7 linked regions of the Homo sapiens genome follow. The protein of the gene in region 7 purifies or fractionates together with the protein of the main gene of each other region. This does not show direct contact. Each region holds a gene or a part of one and is shown on either strand. Other genes may lie near its edges. The genes, in order: SERPINF2, MGME1, NENF, PCDHGA9, ATPAF1, NPEPPS and HIBADH.

What was found.
Region 1: the proteins of HIBADH (region 7) and SERPINF2 purify together in Homo sapiens (affinity purification with mass spectrometry; one large-scale study listed by BioGRID and IntAct). This does not show direct contact.
Region 2: the proteins of HIBADH (region 7) and MGME1 purify together in Homo sapiens (affinity purification with mass spectrometry; one large-scale study listed by BioGRID and IntAct). This does not show direct contact.
Region 3: the proteins of HIBADH (region 7) and NENF fractionate together in Homo sapiens (co-fractionation; one large-scale study listed by BioGRID). This does not show direct contact.
Region 4: the proteins of HIBADH (region 7) and PCDHGA9 purify together in Homo sapiens (co-immunoprecipitation; one large-scale study listed by IntAct). This does not show direct contact.
Region 5: the proteins of HIBADH (region 7) and ATPAF1 fractionate together in Homo sapiens (co-fractionation; one large-scale study listed by BioGRID). This does not show direct contact.
Region 6: the proteins of HIBADH (region 7) and NPEPPS fractionate together in Homo sapiens (co-fractionation; one large-scale study listed by BioGRID). This does not show direct contact.

The regions. Positions count from the first base shown.
Region 1 is NC_000017.11:1,741,344-1,746,149, forward strand, and holds the start of SERPINF2 (alpha-2-antiplasmin isoform a precursor), read left to right. Parts: upstream 1-1,527; 5' UTR 1,528-1,565; intron 1,566-1,655; exon of another isoform or gene 1,656-1,725; coding exon of another isoform or gene 1,726-1,733; intron 1,734-2,990; exon of another isoform or gene 2,991-3,203; coding exon of another isoform or gene 3,204-3,247; intron 3,248-3,648; coding exon of another isoform or gene 3,649-3,652; coding exon 3,653-3,715; intron 3,716-3,831; coding exon 3,832-3,870; intron 3,871-3,989; coding exon 3,990-4,052; coding exon of another isoform or gene 4,053-4,062; intron 4,063-4,364; coding exon 4,365-4,566; intron 4,567-4,806.
Region 2 is NC_000020.11:17,988,606-17,992,108, reverse strand, and holds the end of MGME1 (mitochondrial genome maintenance exonuclease 1 isoform 2 precursor), read right to left. Parts: intron 2,171-3,503; coding exon 2,000-2,170; coding exon of another isoform or gene 1,923-1,999; 3' UTR 987-1,922; downstream 1-986. UniProt on the Homo sapiens protein: Metal-dependent single-stranded DNA (ssDNA) exonuclease involved in mitochondrial genome maintenance. Has preference for 5'-3' exonuclease activity but is also capable of endonuclease activity on linear substrates.
Region 3 is NC_000001.11:212,431,112-212,435,890, reverse strand, and holds the start of NENF (neudesin precursor), read right to left. Parts: upstream 2,972-4,779; 5' UTR 2,948-2,971; coding exon 2,771-2,947; intron 1-2,770. UniProt on the Homo sapiens protein: Acts as a neurotrophic factor in postnatal mature neurons enhancing neuronal survival. Promotes cell proliferation and neurogenesis in undifferentiated neural progenitor cells at the embryonic stage and inhibits differentiation of astrocytes.
Region 4 is NC_000005.10:141,408,963-141,413,162, reverse strand, and holds part of PCDHGA9 (protocadherin gamma-A9 isoform 1 precursor), read right to left. Parts: coding exon of another isoform or gene 2,498-4,200; intron 1,225-2,497; coding exon of another isoform or gene 1,201-1,224; exon of another isoform or gene 542-1,200; intron 177-541; exon of another isoform or gene 1-176. Other genes in the region: PCDHGB6 (protocadherin gamma-B6 isoform 1 precursor), read right to left, coding at 2,543-4,200. UniProt on the Homo sapiens protein: Potential calcium-dependent cell-adhesion protein. May be involved in the establishment and maintenance of specific neuronal connections in the brain.
Region 5 is NC_000001.11:46,665,318-46,670,142, forward strand, and holds the start of ATPAF1 (ATP synthase mitochondrial F1 complex assembly factor 1), read right to left. Parts: upstream 3,006-4,825; coding exon 2,740-3,005; intron 562-2,739; exon of another isoform or gene 332-561; coding exon of another isoform or gene 330-331; intron 48-329; coding exon 1-47. Other genes in the region: TEX38 (testis-expressed protein 38), read left to right, coding at 4,122-4,161. UniProt on the Homo sapiens protein: Has a complex stabilizing activity in the assembly of the mitochondrial F1-F0 complex.
Region 6 is NC_000017.11:47,620,242-47,623,776, reverse strand, and holds the end of NPEPPS (puromycin-sensitive aminopeptidase), read right to left. Parts: intron 2,251-3,535; exon of another isoform or gene 2,010-2,250; coding exon 1,857-2,009; 3' UTR 501-1,856; downstream 1-500. UniProt on the Homo sapiens protein: Aminopeptidase with broad substrate specificity for several peptides. Involved in proteolytic events essential for cell growth and viability. May act as regulator of neuropeptide activity.
Region 7 is NC_000007.14:27,645,690-27,649,889, forward strand, and holds part of HIBADH (3-hydroxyisobutyrate dehydrogenase, mitochondrial isoform 1 precursor), read right to left. Parts: intron 3,945-4,200; coding exon 3,784-3,944; intron 2,936-3,783; exon of another isoform or gene 2,859-2,935; intron 2,242-2,858; exon of another isoform or gene 2,157-2,241; intron 1,521-2,156; exon of another isoform or gene 1,463-1,520; intron 1-1,462.

The sequences.
Region 1 (4,806 bases), on a different chromosome or scaffold from region 7:
ATGCAGGGAGTGAGGCGCAAGACAGTGAGGGTGGGAAGGAGCCTGATGCAGGGAGTGAGGCGCAGGACAGTGAGGGTGGGAAGGAGCCTGATGCAGGGAGTGAGGAGCAGGACAGTGAAGGTGGGAAGGAGCCTGATGCAGGGAGTGAGGAGCCGGACAGTGAGGGTGGGAAGGAGCCTGATGCAGGGAGTGAGGAGCTGGACAGTGAGGATGGGAAGGAGCCTGATGCAGGGAGTGAGGAGCAGGACAGTGAGGGTGGGAAGTGGCCTGATGCAGGGAGTGAGGCGCAGGACAGTGAGGGTGGGAAGGAGCCTGATGCAGGGAGTGAGGAGCAGGACAGTGAGGGTGGGAGGCGGCCTGATGCAGGGAGTGAGGAGCCGGACAGTGAGGGTGGGAGGCGGCCTGATGCAGGGAGTGAGGAGCAGGACAGTGAGGGTGGGAAGTGGCCCGATGCAGGGAGTGAGGCGCAGGACAGTGAGGGTGGGAAGGAGCCTGATGCAGGGAGTGAGGAGCCGGACAGTGAGGGTGGGAAGGAGCCTGATGCAGGGAGTGAGGAGCCGGACAGTGAGGGTGGGAAGGAGCCTGATGCAGGGAGTGAGGAGCAGGTGTGAGGGCGGGAAGCGGCCTGATGCAGGGAGTGAGGAGCAGGACAGTGAGGGTGGGAAGGGGCCTGATACAGGGAGTGAGGAGCAGGACAGTGAGGGTGGGAAGGAGCCTGATGCAGGGAGTGAGGAGCCGGACAGTGAGGGTGGGAAGCAGCCTGATCTTTGCACGGGCTGCCAGGCTTCTGGTTCATACAGCCCCAGGTCAGTTTCCAGAACCCTCGCTCTTGGGTAGGGGAAAGAGACATTGCTCTGGAGTGGCAGGACGGTGGGAGAAGTTGAGTCCCTCTCATTTCTCCTCCCTCACCCCCTGCCTTCCATCCCAGTCTGAAGGCAGCCAACCTGATCCTGGGCTTGGAAGGTTGGGGGTGGGCTTCCTATCCTGGGCTCTCTGCATAGGCTCTTGTGGCTTCCCCTTTCCTCCCCTCAGGAGCGGGAGGCAGCTCTCTGGGAGAAGAAAGGACATTGGGAGTGAGAATCTGGATGTGCCTCAGCCCAGCTCTGTGTCCTTGGGCAGGTCACATGGCCTCTCTGAGCCTGGCTGAACCAGGGATAATCCACACCTCGTGGGGTCTCTGGAAGGCTTAACACAGTGCTAGGTTCCTGTGCTTTCTGGATCCGCCCTCTTGGCTAGCCAGATCCAGTCTCTTCAACTCTCTCCTCCTGAACTTTCTCTTTCCAGGCTCGGGGGGGGGGACCCAAATATAGGGGGTTCTGCGTGGCTGCCTCAGGGTTAGATGCCCTGGTGGGAAAGGGGCTTCTGGCTTCAAGATCAATGTTTAACTGGATGTGCAAGTCAATATTTACCAGAAGAGAAAGCAATCTGAACAGGGGTTGGCTGAGAGTAAAGGTCCTGGTGGGAGGGGAGGGGTGGGCTGGGCCAGCTGGAGCCTGGGCAGAGAGTGAGGAGCACCCAAGTGGGGCCAGAGGAACGTTGTGTGTGGCAGCAAGGAGCCCGCAGAGGTATGAGGGGAGGGGCTGCTCGGCCTGCTCCTTGGGTAGGAGAGGAGGAGGGAGCTGCCTCCCTGGCTGAGGGGTCTGGGATTTATTCAGGAGGCCTGTCACTCCCCAGCCTCTTCTGGGACTTGAAAAACTGGAGCCTGTTCTTGGCAAGAAGATTCTAATGCCCAGGTCGGAGTCGGGGCCCTGGCCAAGGGCTCTTGTGTGGGATGGGGGTGGGGCCGGGGGGACCAAAGGATCCTCCAGAAGGGTTGGCCCCAAGATGGGGGTGGGCTGGAGGTAGCTGAGACCTGCTCTGACTTATCCTCCTGAGACCAACACCTGCCCTTCCCAGAGCCAGCCTGGAGCAGAGGCCTGTGATGCTCCTAAGTGCAGAGGTGGCTCTGGCCAGAGTCATTCACTGGGCTCTGCTGCTGGGTCAAAAGGCAGCTCTCTGGCTGCCTTGCCACCCATGGTGAGACCTCAGGGCCTCACAGGTATGTCCAGCCTTGTGGGCAAGACCTGACCAGCCTGAGAAAGACGGGTTGGGGCCAGGCGTGGTGGCTCATGCCTGTCATCCCAGCACTTTGGGAGGCTGAGGCAGGTGGATCACCTGAGGTCAGGAGTTCGAGACCAGCCTGACCAACATGGAGAAACCCTGTCTCTACTAAAAATACAAAATTAGCCAGGCATGGTGGCACATGCCTGTAATCCCAGCTACTCGGGAGGCTGAGGCAGGAGAATCGCTTTAACCCAGGAGGTGGAGGTTGCAGTGAGCCGAGATCGTGCCATTGCACTCCAGCCTGCATGATAAGAATGAAACTCCATCTCAAAAAAAAAAAAAAAAAAAAAAAAGACAGGCTAAATGGATGCAGCAGGCTGGGTAGGAGCTCTGTGTTGGAGCTCTGCGGTGGAGGCTTCAGGGCAGGCTTCCCAGAAGAGGTGGCCTTGAGCCAAGCTGACCCCAGCCATCGGGGGAGTGCCAAGCATTGTACTCAGGGTTTACAAAGATGGTCTTATTTATTTTTTTGAGACAGAGTCTTGCTCTGTCGCCCAGGCTGGAGTGCAGTGGCGTGATCTCGGCTCACTGCAACCTCCGCCTCCCGGGTTCAAGCAGTTCTCTGCCTCAGCCTCCCGAGTAGCTGGGATTACAGGGGCCCACCACCACGCCTGGCTAATTTTGTATTTTCAGTAGAGATGGGGTTTTACCATGTTGGCCAGGCTGGTCTTGAACTCCCGACCTCAGGTGATCCACCTGCCCCTGGCCTCCCAAAGTGCTGGGATTACAGGCTTGAGCCACCGTGCCTGGCCACAAAGATGGTCTTTTGCCGGGTGCAGTGGCTCATGCCTGTAATCCCAGTACTTTGGGAGGCCGAGGCAGGAGGATCACCTGAGGTCGGGAGTTTAAGACCAGCCTGACTAACACAGAGAAACCCCGTTTCTACTAAGAAATACAGAATTAGCCAGGCGTGGTGGTGCATGCCTGTAATCCCAGCTATTCGGGAGGCTGAAGCAGGAGAATCGCTTGAACCTGGGAGGTGGAGGTTGCGGTGAGCCGAGATCCTGCCACTGCACTCCAGCCTGGTCAACGAGAGCGAAACTCCGTCTCAAAAAATAAACAACAAAAAATCCCAAAAAGACGGTCTTATTTTGGTCCTCACCATGCATGTGAGAAGAGTGAGGGACTTGTGCCACCGTTTTACAAGGTAAGGCCAAGCCTGGTGGAGTTACGGGAAATGCCGAGGTCCTTTGGCAAGAGGTAGCCTGGATTCAGACACAGATCTGATTCACAGCGCAGGGCCTTGTAGAATGAGAACGTTTTTGATTTGGTATCTCCCTCCTATTCACCAAAACACCCTCAGTGCATGAAATGCATGAAATATGAAACACCAGAAACTAAAAAGGGGGAGAAGCCAGGGCGGATGTCCCAGCTGCAGGAGTGGGAGCCGCTGCTCGTGTGTTTGGGGTCTGTTCTGATTCTGGAGCCTGCTTCTTCCCCTTGGCAATCATGACCCAGGACTTGGCGTTATCTGTGATCGCGTGGGTAGGATTCCCTGGCGGGCGTGGGGATGTGAGATGGGAACAGAGCTTTCTGTCCCTGCCACAGGAACATGGCGCTGCTCTGGGGGCTCCTGGTGCTCAGCTGGTCCTGCCTGCAAGGCCCCTGCTCCGTGGTGAGGCTGGGCTGAAGTCAAGGTGGGGTGGGGTGGAGGGGGAAGAAGAGGGGCGTTGGCATGGAGGGAGGGCTTGGCTCCGAGGGGACCTCCTATCCTCATCCCTTTCTCCACAGTTCTCCCCTGTGAGCGCCATGGAGCCCTTGGGCCGGCAGGTACTGGGGAGTGAGGAGCCTGTGATGGGGGGAAGGTCCCGGGGGTCTCACTGGTGGCTTGGGCAGGGTGGGGGGCCTGTGGGAAGGGTCGGTCTCCATCTGCTTGCTCCTTTCCGCAGCTAACTAGCGGGCCGAACCAGGAGCAGGTGTCCCCACTTACCCTCCTCAAGTTGGGCAACCAGGTACAACCAGGTGGGGCTGGGGAAGAGTGGGCGGGGCTAGAGGGAGGAGGGCCCATCGGCAGGGGTCGGGGGGTGGGGGCGCGTGCTGAGGCTGAGGCTCTGGAGTCCAGAGGCCAGAAGGGAGAGAGGGTGGGGAGGACCGAAGGTGGGCGCCAGGCCCCAGAATGCCAGTGCCCTCCGTCTGACGCTCCCTCTTCCCTGGGGCTGGGACAAGGCCCTGCTGTCCTCAGGCACAGGGGCTGTGACAAGGCCTTCAACACAGAACCTGGAGCTGACCCCTTGACCTCCCTGACCCCTGATCTGTCCCTGCAGGAGCCTGGTGGCCAGACTGCCCTGAAGAGTCCCCCAGGAGTCTGCAGCAGAGACCCCACCCCAGAGCAGACCCACAGGCTGGCCCGGGCCATGATGGCCTTCACTGCCGACCTGTTCTCCCTGGTGGCTCAAACGTCCACCTGCCCCAACCTCATCCTGTCACCCCTGAGTGTGGCCCTGGCGCTGTCTCACCTGGCACTAGGTACCCTGGCACCACTTGTCCAGACCAAGAGAGCTGGGAGGCCAGTAGGAACTCAGTACTCCAATGGTTCTCCGCGGGCGGTTCCTCCACCAGGGTCACGTGGCTGTTTGGTAAAAATGCAGATTCCTAGGCCGGGGCGGTGGCTCACGCCTGTAATCCCAACACTTTGGGAGGCTGAGGCGGGTGGATCACGAGGTCAGGAGTTCAAGACCAGCCTGGCCAACATGGTGAAACTCTCTC
Region 2 (3,503 bases), on a different chromosome or scaffold from region 7:
GTAATCCCAGCACTTCGGGAGGCTGAGGCAGGCGGATCACCTGAGGTCAGGAGTTTGAGACTACCCTGGTCAACATGACGAAGCCCTGTCTCTACTAAAAATACAAAAATTAGCAGGGCATGGTGGTGCACGCCTGTAATCCCAGCTACTTGGGAAGCTGAGGCAGGAGAATTGCTTGAGCCCGGAAGGCGGAGGCTGCAGTGAGCCCACCGCACTCCAGCCTGGCTGACAGAGCCAGATGGTCTCAAAAAAAAAAAAAAAGAAAAATAAAAAGAAATTTTGTTAGGTCTAGCCTCCTAAATTCTAGGTTGAGGCTTATTAGAGCAGAGTGGCAAACTCTGCTAGCACAACTTTTAATTGCCTCACTTCATTTTTGACTGGAATTTACAGGCTACAGAAATATGTATCTGCAGCTTGAGAAAAACCCACATGAATGCAGAAGTGTATAGAGATAATACAAAGGTCCCCCTTGATCCTCCCATCTCCTACCTGAATATTGCTTTCCTTGCTAGGTGACCGTGGCTGAGGGCTTAGTGAGGAGGCTTTTTTTTTTTTTTTTTTTTAAACGGAGTCTCGCTCTGTCGCCCAGGCTGGAGTGCAGTGGCGTGATCTCGGCTCACTGCAAGCTCCGCCTTCCGGGTATACGCCATTCTCCTGCCTCAGCCTCCGGAGCACCTGGGACTACAGGCGCCCGCCACGACGCCCAGCTAATTTTTTGTATTTTTAGTAGAGACGGGGTTTCACCGTGTTACCCAGGATGGTCTCGATCTCCTGACCTTGTGATCCGCCCGCCTCGGCCTCCCAAAGTGCTGGGATTTCAGGCGTGAGCCACTGCGCCCAGCCGAGGACGCTTTCTTTTATGCACTTACACAGAACTCTCACCAAAGCTATTGGGCTTGTAAAATTCTGAATTATAAAAAAAGTGCAAACAATTTCCAGGTTTATAAAATTATCCTATAAACACACAAAGTAAACAAAACCAAAGCTTCATTACTCATATCTTGTATTTTATTTCTTATGAAAATGGCTACCCAAAGAAGTCATTGTAGCAGGCTACTATTTTAAGGCAGCAACTGTATAACTTAAATGCTAAGACTCACTCCATAAGACAGAAAACCCTTCCCCAGGGCTGTAATGGGCATTTAAGTTTCCCAAACCCAGGGACAACTAATTTTTATTACCTATTGAATAGAAACAAATGGATTTTAATAGTTCCCCTCCCCTATAGCTGAAAAACTCCACAAACAATAATTGACTCTATCTACATGATCTGTTGACTCACGCCAGAAATAGTTACTAAAACACTTAGAATTGTGATGTTCAAACTGGCCTCTGGCTACTTCTGGGGGGTTATTTGGTGTTACGCAATGACATATTGCCAGCGACATGGTGAATATACTGTCTTTATAGTCAGCAATGTTTAGTTGAGGCTAATCACGTATTTATTTTTTCAAAAGGTTAAATGTAAGCTTTTCCCAGCTGAAATATATAGAAAACCCCAATGTATGAAACAAGTTTTAGGCATTGGTGTTGGCAGCGGTAGTGGGCTGATGTGTCCTCCCTGCACACAGCTGGGGGCATGTAGCCCCTTCCCCTCTGGGTGAACCCTGGGGAAATCTTGGCACCCTCAGCCTCACTGCCTTCCAATCTCAGCTCAAAGACTGGGCATCCTGCCTGGGACCACGCCCCCCCCCCCCCAATGTCCCTCAAGGGAGTACAAGAGTCACCAGCATGACTGCCCATCCTGCGTGTCCTCCTTTCAGGTAAATAAGAGGTAGCATAGCTGGGATTTCGCGTGCCGAAGTCTAGGTCTTTATATCTAGACTTTGGGGCTTTTCAGTCTTTTTGGTAACAACACATTTCAACAAATTAATACTTCTACTTGTGTTCGTGTAGCACTCAGATCCAGTGGCACCTCATTTTTACACTGGAGTAAACAGCAATATATGTTCCCAAACTGTGAGAAGGTGCTGAATGTTCCCAAATAGCAACTTGCTCCCTATTCTGAATATTCTGGTTTCTGAATATTCTGGTTCTTTTTCTTTTCCGTATATTCTTCTAGTCGAAGAAGCCACTTGGTCCAGTACTGGGAACAGAGCTCTGCATCCATGAAATGTGGGTGGGCAGGTGATCCATCTTTGTAGGCCACCACAATTAAGCCACATTGAACCTAGGAAGAAACACAGGGCAATTCTCGTTTCACTACAGTAGGTCCAGAGTTTAGGTTCGTTTCCTTCTTACTCCAGGGCAAACTCAGTATAAAATAATCTACAGGATATCTCCTAACTCAGTTTCTAAGGTAGGTTGATCAAAGACTGCACCAGGACACAAGAACACAAAGATGACAGATAAAACATTGAAGACTGGGCTGTGATCCTTACAGAGCCATTGAAAAAAAAAAAAGGCCCAAGAAGAGGGTGGAAAAGTGCTTTTTTTTTCTTTTTTGAGACAGGATCCCACTCCCATCGTCCAGGCTGGAGTGCAGTGGCACAATCTCGGCTCGTTGCACCCTCGAAGCTGAGGCGGGCACCACTTCCGGCTGATTTTTCTATTTTTAGTAATGATGGAGTTTTGTCACGTTGCCCAGGCTGGTCTTGAACTCCTGGGCTCAAGCAATCTGCCCACCTCGGCCTCCTTCAAAGTGCTGGGATTACAGGCATGAGCCACCACCCCTGGCCAAAAAGTGCTATTTATTTATTTATTTATTTATTTATTTATTTGGAGAGAGACAGTCTTGCTCTGTTGCCCAGGCTGGAGTGCAGTGGAACAACCTTGGCTCACCGCAACCTCCGCCTCCTGGGTTCAAGCGATTCTCCTGCCTCAGCCTCCCAAGTAGGTGGGACTAGAGGCACACACCACCACGCCCAGCTAATTTTTGTATTTTTAGTAGAGACAGGGTTTCGCCATGTCAGCCAAGCTGGTCTTGAACTCCTGACATCAGGTGATCTGCCCAACTCGGCCTCCCAAAGTGCTGGAATTATAGGCTTGGGCCACCACACCTGGCCTATTTATTTATTTTTGAGACAGGGTTTTGCTCTGTCGGCCAGGCTAGAGTGCAGTGGTACAATCTCGGCTCACTGGAACCTCCACTTCCTGGGCTCAAGCAATCCTCCCACCTCAGCCTCCCAAGTAGCTGGCACAAGTGTGCGCCACCATGTCCAGCTAATTTTTGTATTTTTTTTGTAGATACGGGGTTTCACTATGTTGCCCAGGCTGGACTCAAACTCCTGAGCACAAGCAATCTGCCTGCCTCGGCCTCCCAAAGTGCGTGAGCCACTGTGCCCAGCCAAAAAGTGCTTTTTTAAGTGGGAAAGGAACAAGGAAGACGTTAAGCAATGGGATAAAAATAGAGATTAAAAAAGGAAAAACCTCAAGGAGTTCTATTTTTTAACTTTTTTTTTTTTTACAATTTTTCTCCTCCTACCCCCCCACTGAGAAGTTTTTTTTTTTTTTTTTGAGACAGATTCGAGATGGAGTCTCACTCTCTTGCCCAGGCTGGAGTG
Region 3 (4,779 bases), on a different chromosome or scaffold from region 7:
TCTTGGGTCTTGTGGTCAACAGTAGGCTATTAGTAATTAAGTTTTGAGCCAGGCATGGAGGCTCACACGTGTATTCCCAGCACTTTGGGAAACTGAGGTGGAAGAGTTGCTTGAGCCCAGGAGTTTGACACCAGCCTGGGCAACACAGGAAGACCCCATCTCTACAGAAAATTTAAAAAATAGCCAGGTGTGGTGGTGCACACCTGTAATGCCAGTAACTGGGAAGGCTGAGGTAGGAGGACTGCTTGAGCCCAGGAGGAGGCTGTAGTGAGCTGTGTTCCTGCCACTGCACTCCAGGCTTAGCAATAGAGTGAGACCCTGTCTCAAAAAAAAAAAAAAAAAAGGAAAAAAACTGTAGTTTTGGGGGTAGTCAAAAGTTATACATGGCTGGGTGCACACCTGTAATACTAGCGGCTTGGGAGGCTGCGGCAGGAGGATCGCTTGGGCCCAGGATTGCCAGGCTCTAGTGCACCATGACTGCCTGTGAAAAGCCACTCACTCCATTCTGGGCGACACAGCAAGACCCTGCCTCTAAAAGAAAAAAAAGTTATATGCAGACTTTTGACTGCATGGGGGTCAGTACCCCGAACTCCTGTGTTGCTCAAGGATCAACTGTATAGATATAGATATCCAAATGGTTCTGTTCCCTGGTGAAACCTGGACTAATCCAAGTATCTTACGAACAAAGTGGAGACTCAGAGAGGTTTAGTAATTTGCCCCAAATCACACAGCAGAACAGGGACTCAAAACCAGGTATGATCCAATGTATTATACAAATTGTCACACTTCTGAGTGAAAGGGTGTTATTAATAATTATCCCTGGATAACAGGCATAGACCAGAACAATCTAGGTCAAACAACAGCGCAGCACAGCTTGAACCCACTGCACTCAACTGCCTCTCTCGTCCCTCGCTCCCCTCCTCTCTCTGGCTCCTTCCTTCCACCTACAGAGATCCTCAGGCTCCACTCCCAAAACAATTGTTTCCTACCCCTGTTTCCATCTCAAGGTCCTCTCTCTCTCAGTTAAATTTCAATCTATAACATCAACATCAAAAAACCAAGGGTCTTTTCTCAGTCCTCATCTTGCAGTTCTGGCACTCTTGCTGTAACCTCAGTGGTGAACTCTCTCTTTCCTTAGATTCTTGTGCCAGTGGTCCCAAAGATCATCGGGTCAGTTGGAGAGTCCCTAGAAGGAAGATTCCAAGAACCCAGCATATAGTTCTACTCACAGCTGGGAAGGAAAAACACAGAGGGAGAATCTAGGGGAATCTATGTGCAGGTTTCCTATGCTCTCTCCCTCCCATGAGGAAGAGCACACTCTTCCCCCAGCAACAAAACTTGACAGTATGTGCCATTCTTCTGGCAGAACATTCCTCTGCTAGAGATGCCCATTAGACTCAGCACCCAAGGTTTTCACTGGGGGCTGGTCACATGGGGCACCCTCTGCCTAGCATATACAGTGTTCAATACTAACCACACCATCTGTATATACGGCCTAGGCAAGTGAGTCCACCGTTATTGGGTAGGGAAGGGTGAGAAATCCAGACACTAGACAAGTCCCACCCTTGCAAGTAGGCTTTTCTAAGGAGAGCAGGCCTGCCATGTTAATTCTTTTCTGCACGGATGCCTGGACTCTGAACCATCTGGTTCCCTCTGCTACCGGCAAAAAGGCATCCCTTAACATCCTCACATCCCAGCCATGTCTCCCTCCCTCGGTGTCCTCACTGACTCATGGTTCTAAATGGCCCCTTCACAAATGATGCCCAAACTGGCATCACTGACTAAGGGCCAGGTTTCTGATACCCCCATGCAATCCTAGTCCATATAAGGCCAATTAACTCAGGAATTAGCGAGACCAGGCCAGAGGGTTTTGAAAAACATCAGGCCTCTTCCTGCTCTACCACTAACAGGTGGCAGGCCTCAGTTTCCTTATGTGTAAAAGCAGGAGATGGGTTCCTGCCAGCTCTGAAATACTATGGTACTATGACCTCCCCCCAATGCCGTTCCCCCGCTCCACATCTAATATCAGCCCCCTGTTGGTCCTTGTCGTGCGGCTCCAGTCCCAACCAACCCAGGTGGGCAGGTGGTTGTGAGTTTTCTGGACGCCTCTAGACTATTGACGTGTGTGGGTGTGTGTGGGCGGGGGGGTCTCTATTGACGTGTGGCGGGGGGGTTGTGGGGGTCTCTAACCTCCAGTCCACCCTCTGCGCTCACTTCCAGCTTTGGCTGAGCCCCAGGGGTACATGACCTAAAAGTGGGTTTGAGGAGTCCGATGCAGAGGCCTGGGATACAGGGGCAGGAAAAGGAAGTGCAGGCAAAGACTGGCTTATCCCAGGACCTGTCTCAATTCCCACCTAACCCAGGGAGCAGGCTCTGCTTCCCTCCCTCCGTCCCCCGCCACTCCCCACTATGCGTGGGCACAGTAAACGCCTCGGCTGATGCTAACATGAAAACCAAAAAGTTCTGAGGTCTGTACGCAGATCATCAACGAAAAGGCGGCTAGAGGGGAAATCTCCCGGGGACCGAGGGAGAAGTTCAGGGTGGGGTGTGCGGGCAAAGCGGAGCGCTCCGACTGTTGAGGACTCGTCCTCACCCCTCGGCCATCCTTCGGGGCCTAGAGAGAGGAGGCCCCCCGCCGGCCCAGGGCGCCCGCCGCGGGCCGCGCGTCCCCCAGAGCTTCCTGGGCCGCCGGCGCCTCCTGGGTCCCCGCTCGGCTCGCCGCAGATCGGACGCCACCCCGGGTCCCTCGGCCCGCGACACCCCCGCCTACCTCCTCCCCGCCATAGCGGGCCAGCTCCTCCTCGGTGAAAAGCCGCACTGGGGGCCCCCGCTCGGCAGGGCGCGGTGTCTGCCCGGCCCGGGCTGTGGGCAGCCCCGGGGCCAGCGCCAGGACCAGGGCCAGCGCTGCCAGCGGCCGCAGCCGCCGCCGCGGCGCGGGGCCCACCATGGTGAGCGCGCAGCGCAAGGCAAGGCCGGGCCAGGGCGGCGGGGCCCTAGCACGCCCGCCCAGCGTCCCGGAGTCCCGCCCCGCGCCCAGAGCCTCCCCGAGGGCGGGGACCCGAGAACTCCCGCCCTTCGCGCGCCTCCTGCGCCCCGGGGTGGGGCTGGCCGGGCTACTCGGGCCACGCAGCTGGAACCTGGAAATTAGGATTGGAATCCTGAACTCCTAAATCCAAACTACAGACTGGAAGTTACCAAAAAATGTCACAGTGGTTCCTTGATCAGGTAGAAAGATGACAGAGCCCAACATACCAGAACCTAGAAAGGTATATTTCTAAAATAAGACCCCAACTGTCTTAATTCGCTTTTATTTTTGGCTGATTTTTTTTCTTCCTGGTTGTGTTTAAGTTTCTGGTTCCCAAGGAGATTTTTGCAAAGGGTAGGGTGCTGTTACCGATACGCCCTGAAATAATAATAGCTAACATTTGTGCCAAACTTTGCTCATTACTTTATGCAACAAATATTTTTGAGTACCTCCATGTACCAGGTCACTGGGGACTCACCACTGAACAAGACAGATCCACGCCCACGTGAAGCTTACATTGTGTGGGCAGATAGACAATAAGATGCTAAGTAGTATGTTAGATGGTGGTAAATACTAGGGAGAAAAAGTAGGGCAAAGAGATAGGGAGCACTGGGATGGACATTTTATTTTATTTTATTGTTATGTATTTATTTATTTTTGAGACGGAGTCTGTCGCCTACGCTGGAGTGCAGTGGCGCCATCTCGGCCCACTGCAACCTCCACCTTCCGGGTTCAAGTGATTCTCCTGCCTCAGCCACCAGAGTAGTTGGGATTACAGGCACCCACCACCACGCCTGGCTAATTTTTTTTTTTTTTAATTTTTAGTCGAGATGAGGTTTCACTATATGCTGGCCAGGCTGGTCTCGAACTCCTGGCCTCAAGTGAACCATCCACCTCATCCACCCAAAGTGCTGGGATTACAGGTGTGAGGAACGGTGCCCGGTTATGGGGATGGTCATTTTAAATAGGCAGGTTAGGGAAGGCCTCACTGAGAACAGGGTATTTGCATAAAAATCTACAGGAGGCGAAGGAGGCGGTCTAGAGGGAAGAGCACTTTGGTCAAAGGATCAGGTGCATAAATGCGGAGGAATGAGGATGCCCGGCTTGCTGGAGGATCAAGGGAAGGTAAGAGGGGTAGGTGAAGTCAGGAAGGAAGCGGGTAAGGGAGTGGGGGTGGATCTTGGGGGCTTCACAGGTTATTTTCAAGACTGGCTTTTACTTTCAAGACTGGAATAGAGGAATTAACAGAAAAAGGGTCTCATTCCAGACCCAAGAGCAGGTTCTTAGACGTCCACGGCAAAGAATCAGGGCAAGTCGCAGAGCATAGTAGTTAAAATAGTTCATTAGAAACTACTCCATTTCTAATAATAGTACTACTGTGTTTCTGAGTAGTATCCTTGCTTTGAAGTAGTACTAAGCAAGTATTGTTTATATAGGAGCACCTCTGCCTTCAATGTAATGCTTGCTTTTATAGGGCTAAAACTAGCGTACTTCATTACAAAAGCCTATGATCAGCTTGTTACAGACTATTAGTATTGTTATTCTCTTGTGTAACTATTGACTTCAGGGAGAATTTATGGGTGTACTGTTATCTTTAAAGTGAAACTCATTTTTAAACTAAGAATGCCTTTTTCCATTATCTCATTTCCTCAACCATAAACATCTTGTGAAGAGTGCCTATCTTCCTGGGAAAGTCGCCCAGCAGGTTTGGCTTTATCTGACCTTTATTCAAGATGGAATCACTCTGGTTAGGA
Region 4 (4,200 bases), on a different chromosome or scaffold from region 7:
CAGAATTCTGCAAAGTCCTCACTGGACACGTTGTGTGTTTCAACCGGTTCCTTTGTCTTTCTGTGGCTTCAGGGTGTCTCTGTAGCCTGGGCACTTTAAATTCTGGAGTGAGCTTCCCTGCAGCCCAGCAGCCGGTTTGTGGGGCTTGTGTAGTTGAAGCCCTGAGAATCCGGATTGAGCTCTGGCTGCGTTTTCTCTCCTAGTAGGTGAACAGCGGCGCTCAGAGTCCTAAGAAGTTACTGCACCCAAGTGATACATGCAATGGAAAGTAAACTATTCTGTTGGATTATTATATTTTACATAGATTCTTTGGTTTCTCCACTCCTATCTTTAAATAATTTACTATATGTAGGTTTCTTAGGGGAGGTGTGATAAAGTGGAGTGAAAATATTGTAAATATTTCAAGATAATGTTTGGTTAAATATATATTTGCAACACGTTTTCCCAACAGAAATGTACACACTTTAATAAAAGGTAAATAATACTTATTTTAGGTCATATTAGTGTCTAGGTAAATTCAGAAAAGTCTTATAATTTAAAATTGTGATTTGAATAGGCCAATTTTATTTAGTATACATTCATACAAAGATTATATTAAATAAACTCATGAGATAATTCACTCTGAAGCTTTATAATTGTAACTACTTAATTCATTAAACTTATTTAGCTTAGGATTGTGTAAGAGGTTTTTAAAGTACTCTTCTAGAATAGTTTTACTGAGCCTTAATTAACCTTTTTGTGTAAAACATACTTTATCTTACAGGGATACAAGTTAAATGGACCTATTTAAATGATTAAGCAGGTAATCACAAACTAAAATGAACATATATTACAGTTGCAAATTAAACTGTTTGCATTGTAATGAGAAAAGAAATACGTAGAATTTGAAGTACTAAAAGTTTTAGAAAACAAAGTTAGATGTAGTGATATAGGTTTTTAACAAGTAAGTGTTTATGTCAAATGACCTGTTTTCATCAGAGCATTAATACCAGTATAAATAATCTCTTCTCTTAGGCAGTTTGTATCAGAGGCCAAAGTCCAGTGGTTCACATATCTTCAACTGTGTGTGCCCATCAACCCAGTAGCAATTGTTCCCTCAAATGCAAAGGGTATAGAAGTTCACTTCTTTCACACAGAGAACAGGATGTTCAGAAGTGTTTATGTCACTATGCCTTCCAAGTATAGAACTCTTCAAAGATTTTATCTTTTTTCTTCAAAAATCTTCTATCAGAGAATCAGAGACAGAGACTGAGTGCAAAGGCAATAGTATTTCATTTATTTCTTAGAAATGTCTTTTTTTTTTGAGACAGGGTCTCACTCTGTCACCTAGACAGCTCACTGCAGCCTAGACTTCCTGGGCTCAAGCGATTCTCCCACCACAGCCACCAGAGTAGCTGAGACCACAGGCATGTGCCACCACACCCTGCTAATTTTTAAATGTTCTGTAGCGATGGAGTCTCCCTGTGTTGCCCAGGCTGGTCTCAAATTCCTGCGCTCAAGAGATTCTCCACCTCCACCTCCCAAAGTGCTGGGATTACAGCACACTTGGCCCTGCCTGCATATTTATTTATTTATTTTAGAGACAGGGTCGCACTCTGTCGCCCAGGCTGGAGTGCAGTGGCAAGATCAGGGCTCACTGCAACCTTGACCTCCCAGGACCAAGCAATCCACCCAGCTCAGCCTCCCAAGTAGCTGGGACCACAGGGGAATGCTACCACACTCTGCTAATGTTTTTTTTTGTTGTTGTTGTTTTAGTAGAGATGGGGGGTCTCCCTATATTGCCCAGGCTGGTCTCAATTCTTGGGCTCAAGTGATACTTTCCGATTCAGCCTATCAAAGTGCTGTGATTATAGGTGTGAGCCACTGGGCCTGTCTTCTGAATATTTTTAGGCTTTAAAAATATATAAATAAGATATCGTAAATTCACTAAGTCTTCGCAAATTTGAATAGATAGGTTACTTGTTTGTTTTCTTAGATGCCAAGACCACTGCTTCTGTTCGATAGTCAGAACTTGACAAAATATTGTGGCTCACGCCTGTAATCCCAGCACTTTGAGAGGCCAAGGTGGGAGGATCACGAGGACAGGAGTTTCTGAACAGCCTGGTCGACATAGTGAAACCCCATGTCTACTAAAAATACAAAAAATTTAGCTGTGGTGAGGGGCACCAGTAATCCCAGCTACTTGGGAGGCTGAGGCAGGAGAATCGCTTGAACCCAGAAGGCGGAGGTTGCAGTGAGCAGAGATCACGCCACTGCACTCCAGCCTAGGCAACAGTGCGAGACTCCATCTCAAAAAAAAAAAAAAAAAAAAAAGACAAAGACAAAATATCTTCAGTCTGGTGACATTATTTTACAAAAAGATAGAGCAACTTATGAACCAAATACATAGTGAAAACTATAATTGAAAAAACATTGAGAAAATATTGTAAAAAGCTATGGATTTTAAACATATGATTCTAGATATGAAAATAAAGTAGTATGCCTAAAATATGAGAAACTAGTAGACTATTAGATAAATCACACACAAAAAAGAGAAACTCACCGAAGTCAGAGTCTCAGGATGTGAAGTCAAATCCTCCCCACCATGAGGTGGAATTAAGGCTCCAGGAGAAACACTGCAAACCATGTCTTCATTGGAATGTAGGGGCACACTGCATTTTAGGAAATTAAACTCTTTTGTACCCGTATGTGCAATGCACAGATTATAAGAATAAGGCAAAGTCCCCTCACTGTAGTTGGGGGGAACTACAGGTCCAGACTTGACACAGAGACCAGGATGGAAGCAGTCCCAAGTAGCAGGGCTGAGAGAGCGTCGCAGGCGCAAGGCAATGGCCAGAATCACGGCGAGGAGGAAGAGCACTGAGATTAAGGCCAAGGCCACCACCAGGTAAAACTGCAGTTCAGCCTGGGGGTCAGAGAGTACAGGGCGGTCGCTGAGGTCTGGCAGTATCTCTTGCAAGTTGTCTGCGAAGACCAGATGAAGCGTGGCGGTGGCAGAGAGTGGCGGCTGTCCACCGTCACGCACAGCGACCAGCAGGCGCTGGCGGGCTGCGTCCCTGTCGCCTAAGGCTCGAGCCGTGCGCACCTCCCCAGTGCGCAGCCCCAGGCTGAAGAGTCCGGGCTCACTGGCCTGCAGCACGTGGTAGGACAGCCAGGCGTTGTGTCCCGAGTCGGCGTCCACCGCTACCACCTTAGTCACTAGGTAGCCGGGCTCTGCAGAGCGAGGTACCATATCGAAGAACGCGGAGCCGTCAGGACCCAGAGCTGGGTACAGCACCCGCGGTGCGTTGTCATTGCGGTCTCCCACCAACACGCGCAGGCTCACGTTGGCGCTGAGCGTGGGCGAGCCGTGGTCGCGGGCCTGCAGCGTGAGCGCGAAGGCGCGCAGCTGCTCGTGATCAAAGGCGCGCTGCGCGAACACCACCCCGCTCTGCGCGCTCACTGACACGTATGACGACACCGCCAGGGGCTCTAGGTCACTCGCCACTATAGAGTAGGAGATGTGGCCATTGAGCCCCAAATCCGGGTCAGAGGCGCTCACTTGCGCAATGGAGGCTCCTGGCGGGTTGTTCTCGGCCACGTGGACCACGTAGGACGTCTGGTCGAAAACTGGGGCGTTGTCGTTGATGTCAGCGACATACAAGGTGATGCTTCTACTGGAAGAAAGAGGCGGCTTGCCCCTGTCAGTGGCTACGATGGTGACATTGTATTCTGGTGTCTGCTCTCGGTCCAGGGCTCCATCTGTCACCAGTTTGTAGTAGTTATTGGAAGAAGAATAAATCTTGAATGGAATGTCTGTTTCTATATTACACCTGACTTCTCCATTTCCTCCGAAATCCAGATCCCGTGTTTTGAAGAGGGCAACAACCATTCCTGGAGGTGAATTCTCCAAAATCTGATCAGAGAGAGAAGTGATGATTATTTCTGGGCTGTTGTCGTTTTCATCAAGGATTTCTATGATTACTTTACACTGGGTAGAGAGACCACCTCCGTCCTTCGCTTCCACTTCCATGGTGTACCTTTCTACATCTTCAAAATCAAATGACTGGTTATTCTTAATCATACCTGTTTTCTCATCCAATGAGAACATATGTTTTGTGCTCTGGGCAGTGCTTCGGAAGTAGTAGTTTATCTCAGCATTGACCCCCTCATCCTGGTCAGTGGCTGTCACTTGCAACACAGGGGACCCAGGGGGCAGAT
Region 5 (4,825 bases), on a different chromosome or scaffold from region 7:
ATTCACTGCGTTTCTCCAGGCGGGACTCAAAAGCAGCTGGGTCTGACCTGATCAGAGGTAAACCAAAGGGTAAACCAACTGGGCCTTTTTGAATTCTAAAATAACAAAGCATCACTTTCCACCTCTACAGAGAAAGGACACTGCCATTCAGAGAGGTTGAAAAATTTGCCTTCAGTTAGTAAGAACTGGGCACAGGCCTAGAAATAAAGAAACTGGAAAAAGAAATCCTGTTATTCAACTGTTGTTAATCCTCAAGGGGCCTGTGTAACATTTTTCTTTTGCAGGCTGTTCCCTAGGTTTACACAGGGCTTAGTCTCTCAGGTACTTACATTCAGGGTACTTAGAATTTTGAGGTCATCTTGCTGGATCACCTCTTCAGACAAGAATCCTATAGCCTCCTTACTAGGTGTCAAGCTTTTACTTGAATACATCCAGTTCTTGAAAATATGTCCCCCCAACCAGGTTAAACATCTGCTTTATTCAGATCCTGGTGATTCAGAGGCTTTAGGTAGCCTATTTTGCAGAAGATTTAGCATCTGAGTATCTCCCTAACCTACCCTCCAAAGAAGCTGCTCTTGGAGATGAAACAACAGAACACATTGTTTATGTCAAAATGGGGTTGGTCTTCAGGTTTGAAGTCCAGGCTGGGGTGCTGTCCCTATTAAGAATTCTTCAGACTGTGTAGCTAACCATGGGATATTTGGTTTTGTACACTTTGGTGAAGATATCATCCAGGGATTCCAGCTCTTTGGCCATGAGACCCAGAGTTTCATGGGTGAGGTCTGGAGGACCCAGGGACATCTTGGCTATCCCTCTGGTGGACTTTCCTGGTCAATGCATTATAGGGGGCCCCTTCTTCCATAAAATTCCTTTCTGGAGGTGACATAAAACACCACTCCCTTCACTGTCATGTAGATGGGATGTTTTTCTTCTCTCTGTAGTGGGCCGGCTCCTCCTCAATAAAGAGCCTCACCAGGGGTTTCTGCTTAGTCGGGCATGGCACCTGCCTGGCCAGAGCTGCAAGCAGCCCTGGGGGCTGTACCAGGACCAGGGTCAACCCTGCTAGTGGCTACAGCTGCAACTGGGCCTGCCATAGTGAAGGGGTAGAGAGGGCAAGGGACAGCCTGGGCAGTGAAGCTGTTGCTGGGATCTGAGGATATAGAAATAAATAAGTCAGACTCCCTACCTCAAGGAGCTCACTATCCAGTGGGAGAGACAGGCATAAAAGTAAACAAATGAAAGTACAACAGGTATTATGATGAAAATTTGCTCAAACATCCCCAAATGGTTAAGGTGGTTTCATGCCTCTGTACCTTTGTTTATGTTGCTGCTCCCCTTACCTGGAACATCCCCTCCTCTCCATTCTTTTTCAAAGGAAGTTTGCTAACAGATAAAACTAGAGAGAGACTGGCAGGGACTAGGGTATGAGGAACTTGTGTGAAACATTAAGGAGTTTGGATGTTATTTAGAGGTCAGTGGGGGGATAACAGTATGTGTAAATGTTGATGGGAATGATCCAGTGGGGAAGGACGGTAAAACCAGTTATTTATTTGTTCATGAGTGGGTAAGAATAAATGGATGCTGATAAAGTATTCAAAGTACAAGTAGACAACTCTTCAGAGATGCTTGTGTGTAAAACAGATCAAATACAGATCAACGAGAGAAGCCTGGAGGGGAATGTACATCAAAGAAAGGCTTTTAAGATGACAAATACTTGAGACTATCTCAATGCTGCTGGAAGGAGAGCAAAAATACTCATTCATTTACTGCATAACTGTTTCAAATGGCAAGAAAGATCACTACAGTAGCAGTGAGAGGAACTGGGGTAAAGTAGTCCAGGAATGGAAGTAGGGAACTCTAGTTAGAGGATAATGGCAACAGCCCAGGTGACGATGATGGAGTAGATTAAGGCAGTGGAAGTAGAGATGAGACAGAACTCAAATTTACAGTACTAAGTCTTTGGTTTCCTTTCATAAGACAACTACCTTCTTACCCTGCTAAATTCTCTCCCAAGCCCCTTTAATTTTCACCTCTGATCTCCTTTAGCTCTTCCCACTTGAACTCTTCAGATGCTCCTATAGCCCCTCATATGCACCTTAAGCCCCTCTAAGCTCCAGATCCTTCCCTCTGGAAGCTAAGAGGTGGTGTTAGGGACCCTGGACTCAGAGTCAGACAAATCCCAAACAGCTGTGTGACCTTTGGCAAGTCTCTTACTCTCGCTGATCCTCAGTCTCCTTAAGAGGGTTCAATGGGTGATCCGACTGTGACACTATTAGTCTTTGATGCCCTCCTCCCATCCCCAGTCGCCTTTCCTTGCAGTCAAGGCCCTAAGCTACCACCAGCCTGGGAACTCCAGCTCTGAGCCAGGCCTCAGCTATCTTAATATGTGACCTTGAGCAAGTCAAGTCCCTTCTCTAGAAGGCGTTTTCCCATTTCTATAATGAGGACAGGTGTCTCTGAGCTGCCTGCCTCAGGGCTGTCATAAGAGTCCACCTTAGCGTTTGGAGAACCAAAGCAGACAAACGTGGAACGAGCCAGGGCTTTGCAGAGACTCCCAGCTCTGACACCAATTAGCTGTGTGATCTTGGGCAAGTGACCTAGCCTCGCGGAGCCTGGCTACATCATCTGAAGAGCTGGGACAGTACTAGTGCCCACCTCACAGGGCTGTCCTAAGGCCCAGCAGCCCGGGCCGCCCCTCCTCCCGCCTCCTGCCCGCCTCCAGCCAACCCAGGCCCGCACCTGCGCAGCAGCTGGATCTTGTCGCGGTAGCGGTCGTAGAAAGGGTTGGCCTGGAGCTCGGCCTCGGCCCCGACCCCGCTGCTGTCGGCGCCCCCCTCGGGCCGGCCCGAGCCGGGGCGCACTGGGAAGACGCGCAGCTGCGCGGGTGACACGAGCCCCAGGCCCAGGGCGCGGCTGCGCACCGCGCACAGGCCCCGGTAGAGACCGGCCACCTGCAGGACCGCCGGTCCCGCGCCACCCGCAGCCGCCACCACCACAGCAGCCATGGCCGCCCCCGCCTCCTCCTCCTCCTCAGGCGCGTCGGCCTCGGCCCGCGGCCCGCGCGCCCGCTCCATCCCGCTCCGAGTGCGCCGCGCCCGCGCTCCGGCACCGAGGTTCCGCGCGCCCAAGGTTCCGGGCGCGGGATAGCGGCGAGGCGGGGCGGGGAGGAGGGGGCGCGCCGCTCTGGCCCCGGCACTGCGCGCTCTCGCCGCCCTGTGTATGCCACGGCCCGCCTCCTCCAGGGAGGCTGCCCAAATTCAACGCCCTTCCTCCCTCTGGGACCAGCAGCCTCTGCGCGCCAAGTCCGTTCTCTAAAGCCAGCGGATCTCCATGTCCTCGCGGTGCTTGCCCCTGGCACTCGCTGTAGTGCCAGGCACTCGATGTAGTAGTCCGTCCTTCAGCATCGAAGGTCTTTTCATCAACTATAATCACAGCAGCAAGCTTCTCTTTACTGAGGTTGCTATGTGCAGGACACTGAGCGGCTTCATACTCTGTGTGGCAGTATTATCCTCATCTAACAAATAAGGAAACTGAGGCCGAGAGTAATTATGTGACTTGTTCAAGTTCTACCCGACAGCTGAGCTCTTTTCAAGATGGCAGCTGCCTCCCAAGCCTCCTTTTCCTCTGCTTCCTGACATCCTCCTTGAACTCCAGCCACAGTGACCTATTCTCTCCCAAAGAAACACCAGGATTACTCCTTGAAGAGTCCTTATTCAGGCCCTTTTTGACCCCTGGAATCCTCTCTCCTTCCATTCTCTCAACCCAAATGCCACAATCTTCCTTACCGTCTGAACCAGGTGTGAGCTCCTAGGGTCAGGGACAGTGACATTAACATCTCTGTGTCCCACCTGCTCACAGAACAGGGCCAGTCCTGGAGTGGGCTCTCTGGGACAGTACTCATCATCAGGTCCTTCTTGTCTGGGTTTTGTCTGATTGAAGCCCCTCCTGGGACAGGGGCAGAGCCTTCAACTCTGCTCAATCCAACCTATGCTCATGGAGATCAGCCCTGAGCCCTGCCCTGTGCGAGGAACAGTGTAATGGAAGATGAATAAGTCCTTCAAGTATGCCAGCCCATACCTGGCTCACACTCCTAACACTTGCTGTTTTCTCTGTGGATCTGCATGTGGCTGCCTCCTCATCATCTAAGGGCTCAGTTCACATGTAAGCACCTCCAAGGGACCTAAATGACAACCCCTCCATCTCTTTATAGTCTTTATCCCATCACTCTATTGCATTCTCTTTATAGCAGTTATCATTATCTGAAGTTCTTAGATCCTTGTTTATATTAATTCATTGAGCTTACATTCTAGTGGAGTGAAACAGACAGTAAATATATAATGTTAGGTGATGCTACATGGTATGCAGAAAAACAGCAGGCCAAGAGAGATAGAGATAAGGGGACACTTGAGCAGAGACCTGAAGGTAATGTGGGAATGCTGGGGGAAGAGCCTTCCAGGTAGGGGAAACAGCAAGTGCAAAGGCCCTGATGAGGAGGTTATTGAGTCTGAATGAGTGAGGGCACAGCAGCAGAAATGAGACCAAGAAGGTATAGGGAGGGCTAGTTAGATTGCTTAGGCCTTGGTTAAGGACTTTGATTTTAAATCGAATGAGATCGGAAGTTACTATATGTTTTAAGCAGTGGAGTAACATGATCTACTTTTTAAAAGGATCATGCTGGCTGCTGGTGGGATTTAGGATATGTGGAGGCAAGGATGGAAACTCTCCCAAGGGTGACTAATTTATTCCAGTTTGCCTAGGACTTTCTTGGCTCTAGCATTGAAAGCCCCATGTCCTGAGAACCCACCCCAAGTCCTGGGCAAACCAG
Region 6 (3,535 bases), on a different chromosome or scaffold from region 7:
ATCTAGTATAACCTCTCCCTGAACGTAATTCAAACTACTTAACTATTATTACAGACAAAAATCACATGTATGCTGAAAGTAAAATAACCTGTTTCCAGAATTTCTGATTGCAAAATTCTGAGTTCTTCAATTAAACCTGCATTTTTCTCAGTCTTTTTGGTGCCCCTGCTTCACTGGTGCCTTAAGAACATTTGAGAGCCTAAGGGCAGCCCTGAGCATGGTGCCTGAACTAGGGTGCCTCAAAACTAGGGACTGAGGAAGTCTCAAGTTCATTCCTGAATGCTGACTATAAGAGTCTCTGAGAGAGTTTTGAGAATGTAGAACTGATTTAGAATGAATCTCAGGATTTTTCTGTTAAGATCTATAAATTAGGAATTAAGGAACTGGATTTTTTTTGAATTTGAAAAATCCTATGATAGTATAACTTTGCATAAGCCTACTGAATGATAGGAAAGTTTTTAGTTTCTTATCAAAGAAAGAGAATAAAGTGAATCAGGACATCAGTTTCACATTGACATTTTTATTAACGCCAACTGTTTTTTAATTATTTTTTTAAAACAATAGCACAAAAATGTTTCAAGGAAGCAGTCTCACAATCTGATGACCTTCTGAAATACCGTTAAGCCACACCAAATATGAATTTCTGTTAATAACACAAAATATTTTTTTAAGAAAAAAAGAAAAAAAAGGTAGGGAAAGAAGAAGGGAATGAGATTTAGATTTAAAACTCATTGGATTAAATAGGTGAGGCTTATTAGGATATACTGTTGAAGCAAACAGTGGCACACACAGGCTTACAGTCTTTGTTTTTTAAACCAGTTACCACTAATGTATTAAGCCCTGCAGCAGTTACCACTGACTTCTCGCACGCATAAAATGAACCGGGAGAAGCCAGTGTTGATACTGTTGTGAAGAGGTTCAAGAGCTGGCTTTTCAGACAACTAAGACCATTTTTAGCAGAATAACTCCTTCAGAAAGGCCTGGCTGAAGATCTTTTTATTTCTATTGTCTCACCTATATAAATTTCAGGGTTCTTATAAGTCATCTTTAAAAAGAAAAAAATAATGTATATCAGTTTCTCTTATTTAATGTGGCTATGAAAGATGTTTCCTTATTATTTCTTCATCTCTAAGAAGGACACCAGGGAATGGGGGTTGGGGGTGGAACTAAAGGGAGGAAAAAAACCAGAACAGGGTAGGTTTTTGTTTTTTGCTTTTTGTTTTTTTTTGGCCAAGGGGTCGGTCACACAGAAGGGAAGGCAAGGAGGAAAACTAAACTACAATCCTTGGTTCAGATTGAGTTATGCAGGAATATATCTTCCTGATCAGTCCCCGTGCCAAAAAAAAAAAAAGCCACTTGGAATTATGCACTGACTCCAACTATGTGATACCAGCTATCAGCCTTTTGTGTTTAACCATTCCCAGAAATGGACACCACCCTTGGCTTTATAGGCTCCTTGCAGAACCCACTTCACAAAAATGCTCTTCACCAAGAAGCCTCTAGTTTCCTTTTGGTAGGTTATAAAAACAGAACATCTGTCATTAACAGTAGAGTGTTAAATACTTTTAACCACTGACAAGGCTTCAGAAAGTTTCACAGTTTCGTTATGCTCTATTTTATTACTATCATATTTACATTTTTATTTTTTATTTATTTTTTGCTGAATTGCTGATTTTCCTTTTTCAATAGAATTTAATTCTGGAGTGTGAGCAGGAACCAGTTAACTACATTCATTGTCCAACCCCCACTGGTTTGAAAGAAGACTCCAAATTCTTGGCATATGAATCAGCTGTTCGGTAGCTCCACCTTATCCCTGCAGCGAAGCAGCAGAACCGCCAATGGCGGCACCTCAGGATTCACACTGTGGGTGGTGAGGCCTTCCGCTGAAGGAGGTACTGGTGGATGCTCTCAGCATCTCGCTTTAGCCAGGCAGCATTCAGCAGAATATTTTCACAACACTGCTGGATGGTACGCTCAGCTGAAGGAGCTGGGTGACTCTCGAAGAAAGCCTGGTATAAAACAACCCAGAATGCAGGATCATTACTAGCAATAAGAAGTTAATATTACAGGTTATGAAAAAATACCCACTGGTCTATATGAAGGATGCATAATCTTCAGGCATGAGAATTTACCACTGCCACCCTCAGGCTAAAAGAAAACAAGCAACTCCTTGGACCTGCATATAGGAATTCTCCCCTTAATTATATGCTTAACAACCTAATCAAAAGTTAATAAAGAGACAGAACCTACTGCCTTTCTTTTAGGCTAATTGTGTAGTGGTAAATATAGTCTTTGGAATGAAGACTTGGAACCTGAATCCAGGCTTAGTCATGTACTAGCTTGTGACTGTGAGAAAATTAACTGCTCTAAGTCTCAGTTTTCTCAACTATGAGAAAATATCTACTCCAGAAGATTAAAGAGACAATCCATATAAACATTTGACAAAATACCTAGCACAGAGTACTTAAGGATTCAACACATTTTGGCTGCTTCAAATAAAGATTAATTTGTAAGGGATGATAATACAAAGAAGTTTAAATTGCTGCTATGCCCTAATAATTTAACACCCCATGGTCTTTTTTTTTTTTTTTTTTTTGAGACAGGGTCTCACTCTGTTGCCCAGGCTAGAGTGCAATGAAACGATCATGGCTCATCACAGCCTCAACCTTCTGGGCTCAAGTAAACCTCCCACCTTAACTTCCTGGGTAGCTGGGACCACAAGCGTGCACTCCCAGGCCAAATTGTTTTTTCCTTTTTGTAGAGATGGGGTCCTACCATGTTGCCCAGACTGGTCTTGAACTCTTGAACTCAAGCAATCCTCCCACCTCAGCCTCCCAAAATGCTGGAATTACAGGAATCCAACATTTTTAATACAGTAAACCAAACAATTTCTAAGTTTACAATTTATCACAATGCTTAATGATTAAAAGTTGAATAAACTTTTCTAATGCAGTACACCTGGTTTCACAGAAAACAAAGCAACTCTTAAACACCAGCTGGCAAAATGATAGGGCTTTTCCTTTGAATTAGTCACCACAGGTGTGAAAGACAGAATGACTAATCCATCTGATTAAACATAGACCTTTTAGAAATCAATAACCTTATTTACACAGATGACAATTGCTACTGTTCCAAGGCTCCTAATCATGGTTCAGTTCTCAGGGCCTCAAGTCTTTTTCCATTCCATCGCAGAGTAGTACCAACATTTATACACCAGAAACCTGGGGATTATCCTGGCTTGTTTTTCTTCCTCTCCCAGATATGCTCACAACAGAGAAGCCAATCAATAAATATTGTTGAACTAAATGGTTAACAAATTCAAGCCCCTGAATCTCCATTATTCCATCTCCTCCACTACTGCCACTACCCTACTGTAAGCTATTCTATCATTCTTGCTAGGAGAGTTAGCTTCCCAACATCTTCTCTTCCCCATTCCAAACTATTATCCACATTGCAGCCAGACTGAAATTTTTATAACACAAATCAGATCAAGGCACTGCCTTGTTTATAAACCATTCGAAGGCTTTCCATTTTT
Region 7 (4,200 bases):
TATGTTTCTACGATGCCTAATGATGTTGAGCATCTTTTCACATGTTTACTGGGTCATTCATATATCTTCCTGGGAGAAATGTCTATTAAAATCCTTTGCCCATTTAATTGAGTTACTTGTCTTATGCTGGCGTTGTAAGACTTCTTCATATATTCTAGATACAAATTCCTTATCAGATATATGATTTGCAAATATTTTATCCCATTCTGTGAATTGTTTTTCACTTTATTGATGGTGTTCTCTGGAGCACAAGTTTTTAATTTTGATAAAGTCCAATTTACCTATTTATCATTTTGTTGCTCATGCTCTTGGTGTCATATCTAAGAATCCTTCGCCAAATCCAAAGTCATAAAGATTTACCTCTGTGTTTTCTCCTAACAATTTTATAGGACATCTTTGGGGGTTGGGGAGGTGGGCCACTATTCAACCCACTAAACAACCCATACAATAGATAAATATTATTAAATTGTAACTCCGTGGGTACAGAACCACACAAGAGAAGGCAAGGGAGACCAATGATCAGTGGCTTGACTGATCTAGGCACCTTATTTTCCAGCAATCTAGTTTATAAATAGGTTAACAGGTAGCTACATTTCAGAATCATCAACACAGATGTCACATACACACACTCAAAAATGTCTTTCACATTAATTTCAAAAAGAACCAAAACTCCGAAGTCAAAGACCTTTGTTTAGACATTGGCTCTTGCTATTCATTCACTACACAGTGGTAACCCCTCCTCTGAGAGGTATACATTCCAAGACTCCCAGTGGATGCCTGAAACCACAGACAGTACCAAATCCTATACAGACTATGTTATATAAACATATAGACTATGTTTTCTGGTTTGTTTTTTTTTCTTTTTAAGGCAAGGTCTCACTCCATCACCCAGGCTGGAGCACACAGCTCACTGCAGCCTCAACCTCCTAGGCTCAAGTAATCCTCCCACCTCAGCCTCCCAAGTAGCTGGGACTACAGGCACACACAACCACGCCCAGCATTTTTTTTTTTTTTTTTTTTTTTTGAGACAGAGTCTCCCTCTGTCATCCAGGCTGGACTGCAGTGGTGCAATCTCGGCTTATTGCAACCTCCGCCTCCTGGACTCAAGCGATTCTCATGTCTCAGCCTCCCAAGTAGCTGAAACCACAGACACACGCCACCGCGCCTGGCTAATTTTTGTATTTTTAGTAGAGCCGGGGTTTCGCCACATTGGCCAGGCTGGTCTTGAACTCCTGGCCTCAGGTGATCCGCCTGCCTTGGCCTCCCAAAATGCTGGGATTATAGGCACAAGACACTGCGCCCAGCCAGTTTTTCTTTATATATACACTCCTATGATAAAGTTTAATTTATAAATTAGTCACAGTAAGAAATTAACAACAACAATAAAATAGAACAATTATAACAATATGCGAGCAACACTACTCTTGCGCTTTGGACCATTATGAAATAAAATAAGGGTTACCTGAAAATAAGCACGCGATATCACAACACCCGATCACTGAGGCGGCTAGTAAGTGACTAATGGGCCAGGGAGTGTCTGCAGCATGGAGACGCTGGACAAAGGGATGATTCACATCCAGGTTGGGACAGAGCTGGACAGCACAAGATTTCATCATGCTACTCAGAACGGCATGCAATTTAAAACTTATAAATTGTTTATTTCTTGAATTTTGTACTTAACATTTTCAGACCACATTTGACCATAGGTAACTGAAATCGTAGAAAGTGAAACTGCAGATAATAAGAACCACTATATAACATTAGGGATATTATTTAGCTTCTCCAAGCATTGGCTTCTTGATAGCACTTCTGTTGCAAAGATAAAATGAGATAATACATACAAAATATTTAGCAAAAGACCTGACACATAGTAGGTGCTCACTAAATACTGTATTAGATTCTTTTCTCTCCCTTTCAAAACATAAATATCTCCTTCATGCAGGGATAAGCCTTATTCTTAAGGCAGCCTTCCTTCATACCTACCTAAAATTAGCAACACTAAAGAAATAAGAAACTTGTTGGGAAACAGAGGTAAGCCTGGTAACTTCAGAGTATGAGGTAATTCAGGCAGAGCATCAGAAAGCTCTAGAATTCTGGGAAAAAGCAGGAGAGAGTCACAAAGCAGTGATGATCATTACAGTCGTTCCACATACAAGCTGGAAGTACTACAGGCATAGAGGGAAGAGTACCTGTGTCTGTAACAACGTAAAAGGTCACAAGCTTCTGCTTTGCCAGTCTAGGGTAATAGTCCCCATTCAATTCCTACCCCACTCTTTGGTTAAATTCTGTTTTTAATTGAAGATATTTCCTCTGTTTAGAGATCAAGTACCCTTGTTACTCTTACTAACAGATAAACCACTGTAAAATGGCAATACCAAATAGATGTGTTATCCCAAAAAGTAATAACTGTCTCCTCAAAATAACTACTAATTGGTTCATCTCAGACTGAATATCAACTTGAAATGCTCACCATCTCTGAAGATGGTAAAAGGCCGCCTTTCCCAGATTCTCTACTATACGACTGATCAAATCTCTCCAACAAGGCTACTAAGTCCCTACATTAATTAAGCCTGTAAGCCTGCTATACTGGGAGTGTAATATCCGTATTCAGAGACTGAACAGGCAGAAGCAGCCACAACACTACCCTGAAAAGTTCCAAAGTCATACTTCCATCCTCACACTATACTGCTGCAATTTCCATATGGCACAAAAACCATGGAAAGGAAAAAGATTCAGATATATAGTTCTGAAAATGGCTTCTAAGTTACCTAAAGCTGTTCTGTAACTAGGTATAGCATTTTTCAGTATTTACTTTCAAGTCTATTATCTAGAAGCTGGCTGTGTAATTTTTTTCTCACCTTTTTCTCAGGAATTTTTTAGTATTCTCTGTTCTGGGATCACACACTATCCTCAGTTACCACTCTACAACTTGACCAAGAAGAATTTCCCTCATATCTAGAAAAAACAAACTATATTCGGATACTGATACATGGTCTCCTGTAATTTGAGTTATTGATAAAGTTTAACAAATCCAAACAACTCAAGACTTAACCAGCAGATGTTATCATCCAACATGATAAACTCTGGTACCAAAATTCTTTAAACATGAATGATAGCCTAAAAACACTAGAGATCCACTATAACTCAACTCTTCATTATAGGACATAGTGTTTTTAGGCTGTCTCCTGGTTTATGGCCAATAACTAATAATTATTCACAAAGTGCTGCCATATGATGTTTTCAAAGTATGTTCACATACATTCTCTCATTTGAGCTTCACAACCTAATGGCATAGGTTGTCATCGTTCACATTTTAAGAATGAGGAAATCAGCAGAAGTGATGTAACTTGCCCCCAGTAAGAAAGCATGTATCTGAGCTTCAACTCAAACTAAGCTTTATATCTCTAAGCCTACTCTTGTTTTAAAGACATATGTGCTTTTAATAACACAGGAGGTTATTTCCACCAAACTAACTACTTTAACAGCACAATCAGTAAAGTTACTATCTCAGAAAACTGATACAGAGCTAAAACAAGGCCCTCTGACCAAATGTGCAAAATGTTCCAAGTCACCTGCCAAAGAATAGATACCCCTGAATGTCTAACGAGAACTCTCCTTTACTGCAAATCTGGATGTTGGATGAATGATTACATATATATAAAATTAACACTGAATTAGGTTTACAACTCCATTGGGTATACTTCTAAGAAGCTGTCACTTATTTGAATGTATATTCATTTTTCATTCTCAAAATCTAAAACAAATCTAAAGAAAAGGTCTTACCTGTTCACCTGCATCTTGAAACTCTTTGCAGGCATCAGGGAACACATCATAAATAATAAGTGGATAGCCATGTTTCATGAGATTTTTTGCCATTGGATTCCCCATGTTGCCCAGTCCAATGAATCCAACTGGAGTCTTTGAAGCCACTGACCTAGAACACACTGATTTCAATACATTATTTTCAATAGGGGCAAATAACATTTTTTATTGTAAACATTCATTTAATATTAGCAAGTCAATTGTTAGATTTTTTTTTTTTAATAAAAGAAACTTTCAGGAACCAGGTGCAGTGGTGCACACCTATAATCCCAGCTACTTGGGAGGCTGAGGTAGGAGGACTGCTCGAGCCCAGGAGTTTTAGAACAGCCTAGGCAACACAGTGAGATCCCATCTCAAAAATAAATAATAATATTTATT